Regions from separate parts of the Homo sapiens genome. Here regions 1 and 3 are each linked to region 2. The links come from fine-mapping of genetic effects on plasma protein levels. A gene starts in region 2. Each other region holds a variant in brackets. All regions are shown on one strand. Distances are between the middles of the regions.

Evidence for each region. PIP is the chance, under the fine-mapping model, that this variant and not a neighbour inherited with it causes the effect. Protein levels are from antibody-based Olink assays in UK Biobank. Linkage for the fine-mapping came from a reference panel and not from the study's own genotypes, which makes the PIPs less certain.
Region 1: its variant is fine-mapped to the plasma level of the TNFRSF19 protein (UK Biobank, PIP above 0.99). The variant lies in the coding sequence of TNFRSF19. If it changes the protein, the assay may bind it differently, which can mimic a change of level.
Region 3: its variant is fine-mapped to the plasma level of the TNFRSF19 protein (UK Biobank, PIP above 0.99).

The regions. Positions count from the first base shown.
Region 1 is chr13:23,657,700-23,660,467 of GRCh38, reverse strand. It overlaps TNFRSF19 (TNF receptor superfamily member 19), which reads right to left. Exons shown (of 10, transcript NM_148957.4): 6 at 1,254-1,418; 7 at 1-103. Among named protein-coding and RNA genes, the nearest start is that of TNFRSF19, 89 kb to the right of the region's middle. The variant G/A (reference allele first, on the strand shown) is at 1,388.
Region 2 is chr13:23,569,004-23,571,771 of GRCh38, reverse strand. It overlaps TNFRSF19 (TNF receptor superfamily member 19), which reads right to left and starts at 1,360. Exons shown (of 10, transcript NM_148957.4): 1 at 924-1,360.
Region 3 is chr13:23,612,527-23,615,294 of GRCh38, reverse strand. The region is part of intron 3 of TNFRSF19 (TNF receptor superfamily member 19); the gene reads right to left. Among named protein-coding and RNA genes, the nearest start is that of TNFRSF19, 43 kb to the right of the region's middle. The variant A/G (reference allele first, on the strand shown) is at 1,164.

The sequences.
Region 1 (2,768 bases), 89 kb before region 2:
CGGCACTGGCAGCAGGCTCTGTGGGCATATTCGTGGAGCTGAGGTCTGTCAAAACACGACAGCTCAGAGCCGTTGTACTGAATGTCCTGTGACCGCAGAGACCCTAAATGAGGGGTGAGAACTCTGTCAGGGAACACAGTCTCCTCTCTAGTGGACCTGTGCCATTCTAGCTTTTGTATTTTTAAAGAACAAATCAGCTATCCTTCCAATGTTTGATGACTTCTTCTTACATGGAAGCACAAACATGAAATAATTTGTTAAGAAAGTTCAAAATGTAGGGTACTAATGTTGCCATTACTGAGAATGATTTTTATTTTTGCCTAGTGGCGCAGGGACATCACAGCCTTGTAAGTCTCCTTACAAAGCTGTGCAACCTCAGTGAATTCTACAGATGACCCTTAAGCAACACGGGTTTGAACTGCGCAGGTCACTTATACACAGATTTTCTTCAGCCTCTGCCACGCTGAGACACCAAGGCCAACCCTCCTCCTCCTCCTCCTCAGCCCACTCAACATGAAGATGATGAGGATGAAGGCCTTTACAATGATCCGCTTCCACTTAATGAAGAGTAAATCTATTTTGTCTCCCTTATGATTCTCTTAGTAACATTTTCTTTTCTCTAGCTTACTTTAATGTAAGAATACAGGGCATAATACATATAATAGGCCGGTGCAGTGGCTCACATCTGTCATCTCAGCACTTTGGGAGGCCGAGGCAGGCGGATCACGAGGTCAGGAGTTCGAGACCAGCCTGGCCAACATGGTGAAACCCCGTTTCTACTAAAAATACAAAAATTATCCAGGCGTGGTGGCGGGCGCCTGTAGTCCCAGCTACTCCGGAGGCTGAGGCAGGAGAATCACTTGAATCCGGGAGGCAGAGGTTGCCATGAGCTGAAGTCACGCCACTGCCCTCCAGCCTGGGTGACAGAGCCAGACTCTGTCTCCAAAAAAACAAAAAAACAAAGAAACATATAATAAACAAGATGTATTAACCAACTGTTTATCAGTAAGGCTTCCCGTCAACAATAGGCTATTAGTAGTTAAGTTTTTGGGGAGTCAACACTGACGTGTGGATTCTTAACTGCTCTCCTAGCCCTCTGCTGTTCAGGGATCACCTGTGTTTCTTGTGCCCTGCGTTCTTTCACAACTCACTGGTGCTTGTCTCAGCCAAGTCTCTTGTGGAACACTTGCACGACAATAGTAATAAATGCCCTTCCCCTAAATGCTAAGAAATGTAATGAGCTCAAAACTTACAGCTGGGTTTCTTCTCCATAAACTGTCTCTTACAATAGATGACACAGAGGATGAGCAGGGCCAGCAGGACGGTGGCCAGAGCGCTGCAGATAACGGCAGCCAGCGCCGTGTCCCGTGGGCTGGAGGCCGTGGAC[G/A]CGATCTTCACGAGGTTGACCTTGCTGGCACCTGAAACCACAGGAATGGGGTCAGCATGCTCTGAACAACTGCAGATGCAGTGTTTATGGCGAAGCTGGCAGGCACCCTTACCAGTGGCCTTCCCATGCTGTGAGAAAACTGGCATGAGATATTTAAAGATGGCTCAAGCACCCCCTCCACCCAGAAGATGTCTTTAATGGGACACCTTTACCCGGCACCCCACAATGTGCAGGGTGTCCCTCTCCTCTGTTCCCAGAGCGCTACGGACACACAATCCTCAACACATTGTGTTACTAGAATCTGCCTTCAGCTCCACCAGAGCAGAATTCTTTGTGAGCTGGGGGTCTGTCATCTTTACCTCTGGTTGCCCAGTACTTGGCATGTGGCAGGGAACTAATGTTTTGTACTTAATTGGAATTACACCATATTTTTAAGCAGACTGAATGCATGTATGCTTTTTGGGGCAACTTTAGGGGAAAACAAGGAGTTGGATCATCCAGAACCTTACAGTAGACCCCAGTTTTTGAGACAGTAAACATCTCTGAATGCCTTAGCTGTTAAACTACTGGAAAACATCTAAGTTTTGGAGAAAAGACTAATACTGTTATTACACTATGGAAAGGCCGGCATAGTCATGTGCTAAGAAAGTCAAGAAATAGATCTTATTTTAGAGGGCAGTACTGCTTTGTGGTTCAGGGCAGATTCTGAACCCCATGGCCTGGGTCAACCTCTACCTGTGTGACCTTGAGACACTGACTGGAATTTCAAGTTGCCATCTGTTCAAATGGAGGTAATAATAGTGACTGGCTCATGTGTTATGTAAAGTGTGTGGGACTGGCTGTGCTGTAGAATCATTAGCCACTGTAATGATGATGATAGTAATTACCATTTTAAAACTATCCTGAGGGTACCAGGATAAACAAACTCATTTAAATCAGAGATCTATATCTAGTGCAGTTAAACAGCATATCCTACTTAACTAACCCCAAAATAATGAGAGAAATGGATTTAAAAGGGGCATGAATCTACACAGAGGGGCAGTTACATTTTCTCTTTCCCAAGCAGATGCCCTGAGTGAGCTGAGGGGCCCTCACTCTGCTTCCCCGGCAGGTGCTGCTCACCACAGGAGCCTCCCCTCGACTGAAGATTACTCCAGGTAGAGGTATAATGTGTGCTTCACATGTCATTTCAGGTTGTCTAGGAACCACATTTAAAACGTAAAAGAGAGGCAAGGTGCGGTGGCTCATGCCTGTAATCCCAGCACTTTGGGAGGCTGAATTGAGAGGATCCCTTGAGCCTATGAAGCTGCAGTGAGCTGTGATCGCACCACTGCGCTCCAGCCTGGACGACAGAGCGAGACTCTGTCTCAAGAAAAAAAGA
Region 2 (2,768 bases):
TATCATGAACTGACAAAAAAATAACAGTTAACTTTCAAATTCGGTACAGCAATATAATTTGGTTTTGTCATGTTGGGCATTAGCTAAAGTGAAAATGTGACTAAGATACTTTATGTAACATAATAACTGTTGATTACTCAGATAGTTTTCATAAACAGTTGGCAAATTTTGACTTAAAACAGCTGTCACTATAAATGTAAAGTAAATGTTAATTTAGGAATATTAACCTTGTGAATGTTTCTGTAAATAAGGCTTATGCTATTTCCAAAGGTTATAGAAAATCACTGGAGTATTTTTAGCCAAACTTAGTGCAACTTTATCCTCACTGTTTTTAAATTCTTCAGTTTTACACATAAAAGTCTTTAATCATACTTGATGGTTTTTCAGTGATTCCCTTGAGTGTACAAACTGCATAAGGAAGTGTATTTGATAGATTTACATCTTGGAAGTGAGAGAATAAATAAACTAAAGAAACAGTATTGCCAGAGATACATTTTACTCTTTTATATAAGAAAACAAAGAAAGCATTTTCAACAAGCAAAGTTGCACTGACTGTTTACTAAATAAGGTAACCTGTAAATACTTAGAGCAATTATAGCTCACAGATCTCAGGGGTTGAAGTACCAGTTGCATGCTAAAGTGAGCGCTGTTCTGTTTTGTCCTGTTTGTACAACTCATTTCCAAGTAAAATTTGTATGACAGACTGCAAACCCTCTTGTACAAACTACTAAAAATTACATCAAGTTCCATAGTTACTCTGATACACACATTCAGCATCATGTAGTATTCAGCTGTATAAATGCTTTCTAAAAAATTAATTAAAACCATTCTTTTCTCAGAACACATGCGAAAAATGCAGTGAAAGCTATAACAAAGCTTAAAACAGAGTACCTGCAACATGCTGAGCTCTTTGCAGTACTTACCCGTTCAGCAACTTAGTTTCTCCTGGCAGCACTTCTGTGCCAAATGCTTCTACCTTCCCAAAAATGTATGTCAGCACAAGCCCAGACGAAACTTCAAATCCAGGAAAATAAAATTAACCATGCAGATCAAAGGCAGACGAGCAGGGAGATGAAATGCCTGTAATCTGATCAGTGAATCAGTTGCTGAACATCAAAGGCAGGGCTGAGTTTATATATATGCATGGATATCAAAGAAAGTTCACTTTCAGCAGGTAGTTACCCTCCCACCTCCTAGTCCACAGACTCTTTTGTTAAACATGGATCACGTTGTTTTCCTCCTCTTTTTTGCAATGAGGCAATGCTGGTAGTTCTCCCATGCTTGGGCTGAGTGGCTGGATCTGTAGCTTTTTTGGTTCCCAAGCTGTGTTGTGGACTGTGTGTTGGAAGCTTTTCCTAGTGCCAGCGGGTTCTGCTTTATCCCTTTCATCTCGCTGAACTGCAGATCCCATGACATCATTCAGCGCCGTGGGACTGGTAGGAGAGCTATAATTCAGCCTGTGGGGGAGTATAGCTCAAGAGAAGCCAGAGTTTGGCTGATTTCTAATCATGTTAGACTATTGTGCCTCACACAGGACAGTTTCTGTTATCTGTCTGCCAGCTGGAAAGGACAGCAACTGCTGCTGGATGCTTCTTGGGTGATAAGATCCCTGATGGATGGACGTGCCAAATGACAGCATTTAATTGCCTCTTCGCTGATAAAAATCACAATTTCCTACAGAGACTGGGTGTCAAATATTCAGCATAGTTAAATAGCACTATGAGACCACTCTAAAAAACACCCAAGGACACTGCCAGATGGACCGATAACATTTTCACATTTTGATTCCAGTTTTCAAAGTGACAAGTCTTTAAGGATTTTAAGGAAACTGCCCTTTCTTTGAAACATACATTATTAGGATCTGATTACCAATCAAACCGGGTTGTGTTAAGTAGTTAAGCAGCAGATAACCAACAATTCATGAATAAACTGCCATCTTCCACTGGCTCACTTAAGACTTTGGGCGGAGACTTAATCTCAATCTTTGCCTTAGTTCGGGACTCTGGAAATTAGATTTTAAAGCAATATCTACTTCTTAGACATATTTCATTAATACTTGTTGAGCATTTTAAAATTCACAAAAGAAGAATTATGTAGAACAAAGCATTTGCCCTGTGATTATTCCAAAGCCATGTTATTTGCCTTTTAGGGCTGTTTCTTCCGAACTCATAGTTTGGACTTTCAACTCACTAAAAAATTACCACCTTAGCCTAATTCTTCGTATTTTAAAATTAAATATATTGCTCATTATTTAAAAATTTTAAGCTATTTTCCTTAACAATGTCAGATTCAATACAATATGATTATTTTATTTTGAGTATTTAGTAAAATAGAAGATAAGAAGAAGTTTCATCTTCCTTGAAATCCAGGATATGGTGCTTTTCTGATTTTCAGACAGTTCTTTCATGGAATGAAGACAATTTTTCTATTTTATAATGGAAACTCACTAACTTTTAGAAAGTAAGTTAAAAATATTTTTGCAAAACTTAGGGGATAGTAGAACTCAGTCTTTTTCAATGTAACTTCCCTCCTTAACTGGTTTTGTCTAATTTTTCCTGACGCGATATTTGAAAACGTTATTTATGAAGTGTTTATTTCCAGATTTCTATGATTCTTGAATAATTTTAATAGCAAAATATTTAGTTTGAACTGTTCATAAGTTCTGTATAACATTTAAATAGTCCTGTTGATTTTTCCATGTTTCTTGTATAATTTTTCTACTTATACATCATTTCTCAAAAATGCACAGGGCTCAAATAGTATTTGAA
Region 3 (2,768 bases), 44 kb before region 2:
AATTCTGTGGTACTAAAGGTCTCAAGCTTCTCTAGATTTGAACATCAGAACACACTGTTTTCCAAGAGTGGGCAAAACAAATGGCTCTCTGACCCACATACAATCATTTCCACAAGTTCAAGAACTCAGTAAACTATAGCATATCATGTAACATAATTATAATGCAACTATAAAAAGAAGAATGTAGATGTGATCTGTGTTCACGACAATTTTAAAAATAAGTTTTAATACAGAATTAGAAGTATGATTCCATTGTTTACAAAAACATTCATGTAAGTACCAACATTTATGGGTGCTTACTCTAGACCAAGAACTTTACACCATTATCTCAATAATCCATACTCCTTCCCAATCAGGGCAGCACTGCCATTTTTCCCATTTCATAGATTGGGGGATAGAGCGTCAGAGAAGTTATGTACCTTGGGCTAGGTGACAGAAGTAGTGTTAGAACCAGGATTTCAACCTACATCGTCTAATTCCAGAGTCAGGCTTCATAACCACTACACTACAGGGCCTGCCAGGTACTATATATATATATATATATATATGTATTACTTATCCACAGGAAGCGGCTGAAGGACTACACACTGTTGGTAACACCTGTTGTCGGTCTTTGTGATGGTTTCTATAGAACACTCATCATTAACAAAAAACAGACAGTGGCTTAAGAGCAAGAAGGGCACCCATGCAGGCAGCAGGCTGGGCATGCCCACAAATGCAGACTGGATGCTGCAGAGGAAGAAAGGCTTGCAAGAAACCTCAGTTTCCTCATTTGTAAACCCTGGATGCTAAAATGCAAGTCCCACCTAGTTCAACATTCCCATTTTTTCTGTAAAATTTACATATTTTAATTTCTTCATCCATATTTGTATACGAAATCAACTAAGCAGTACTTATTGGCCAAAAATTAAATGAAAACCAACTTGAAGGATAGTGCTGCCTGTACTTAATAAACTACTCAACAAAGGATTCGGAGGAATCACTTCCATCTAGATTTTTACTAATTAACTCATTCACATTTTGGGTGAGTGATACTTTCTTTCCTCCTTTCAATTACTCTGCCTGTCTTTCAAACGTACATCGGGAGTGTGCACAACAAAGAAGTGAGGAGAAAAGGGTGGAAGGTCAGCCTCCTCCTCACTCCTGAGAGCTCCAGCCACACA[A/G]TGTTCTATATCAGAGGCACAGAGAGGAGGGGGGAGACAAACAACACTTGATTTAAAGAACTGATTAACAAGTTAGAATTTCTTTAAAATTGTTAACAGGGATTATCTCTTTCAGAGGAGGGGAAGATTAGAATTACGGGGTGGTCTCAAGTTTTACAGTTCTGCAAAATGTAATTTTTGCAAAAAGCATCCATTACTCTTGTAATAGGAAAACAATAAAGATGCATATTCAAGGAGAATTTCTCTGGACATGTGCTGGGTCTTTGCGGGGTGATCATTGTGACTCTGGCTCTGGGCTGGGACAGCTGTGTTTTTGCTGAGCACTTTGGTTGCTGGGAGAGCTGTGTGCAGGCACAGGCTTTCTGAAGTATAGGAGAGAGCCTCCCACTCCCAAAGTCCCTTGGGATCAAGGCACAGGTGCACGTGACCTTCTGGGGGTGGTCTCCACCTTGTTCCCAAGCTAGGGTTCTCCACAGCAAAGGTTCAGGAAAGAGCAGAGTATTTCAAAATCACACTTTGATCCAGGCAGCTTGAGGTTGTAAGAGTCTCATGTACGAGTTAAAACACAACAAAGGAAAAGAAGAAGGAGGAGAAGTACAAGGGAAAGAGAAAGGAGAATGCAGAGAAAGAGGTGCATTAACTGGAAATAAATGTCCTTGGAAATTCTGTTTCAAGCCAGGTCAACATAGGAGAAAAGTATGTATTTTCCTACATTGGATCTAAAGAGACATGAGTTTGAATGCCAGCTCTGCCACTTGTTGGCCAAGTTATTTTGGGAATTCTCCGATCCTCAGTCTCTTCATCTGTGAGATGGGGATAAGAATACCTGCCCTAAAGGTTGTGTGAGGAATAAATGGGAATGCATATAAAGTGCTCAACTCTAAATCAAGCACGGAGTGCACATTTCCTAAACAAATTATACCTATAAGTGTTAGGATTTTGGATTTTCTACAATCCAATAAATAAACCAACTTTGCTGATTCAAGAATCATAAAGCTTCCCTGGAAATAAGGGGATCATCAGACCCCAATTTCCATCTAAGACATTTTTATTGACTAAGAATCTTTCAAAAAGAAATCATAATTTTCTTAATTAAAACAAGTTTAGTGGAACACAAACTCTAATTCAACCCTATCTGAGTCAACTGCTGCACCGTGCTATAAGAGCCCTGCGTTCCTGCCAGTCAGTCATTCAACTGTGGCTCCCTGTCCTGCTGACTGTCTCCAAGTCACCTCCTCCCTCCACTGAGAAACTGTACAAGTAATCCAATGGACTAAAAGTTTTGAGTGTCACAACTCTTTTGAAAATGAACATACAACTTAATGTGGTGGAGGTCTTTGTGGTTATTTTTTGGCAAAATAATAAAATTCATTGATCATATCCCAAATACTCATGGGAACTTTCATAAAGACTGTTTATTTGGGAAATTTTACTTAAAATAGATTTTCTCTAAAGTATTTACTATTTTCAAAAATGTAATATTTTTAAAGCCTAATATTAATTTGAAACTATTAAAAAATAGCCTGCAGTTCATAAAAGTCTAAGAAATTGATGAAGTGACCATTCTACACATTGAATTAACTAGAAACCATGAAATAACTAGAA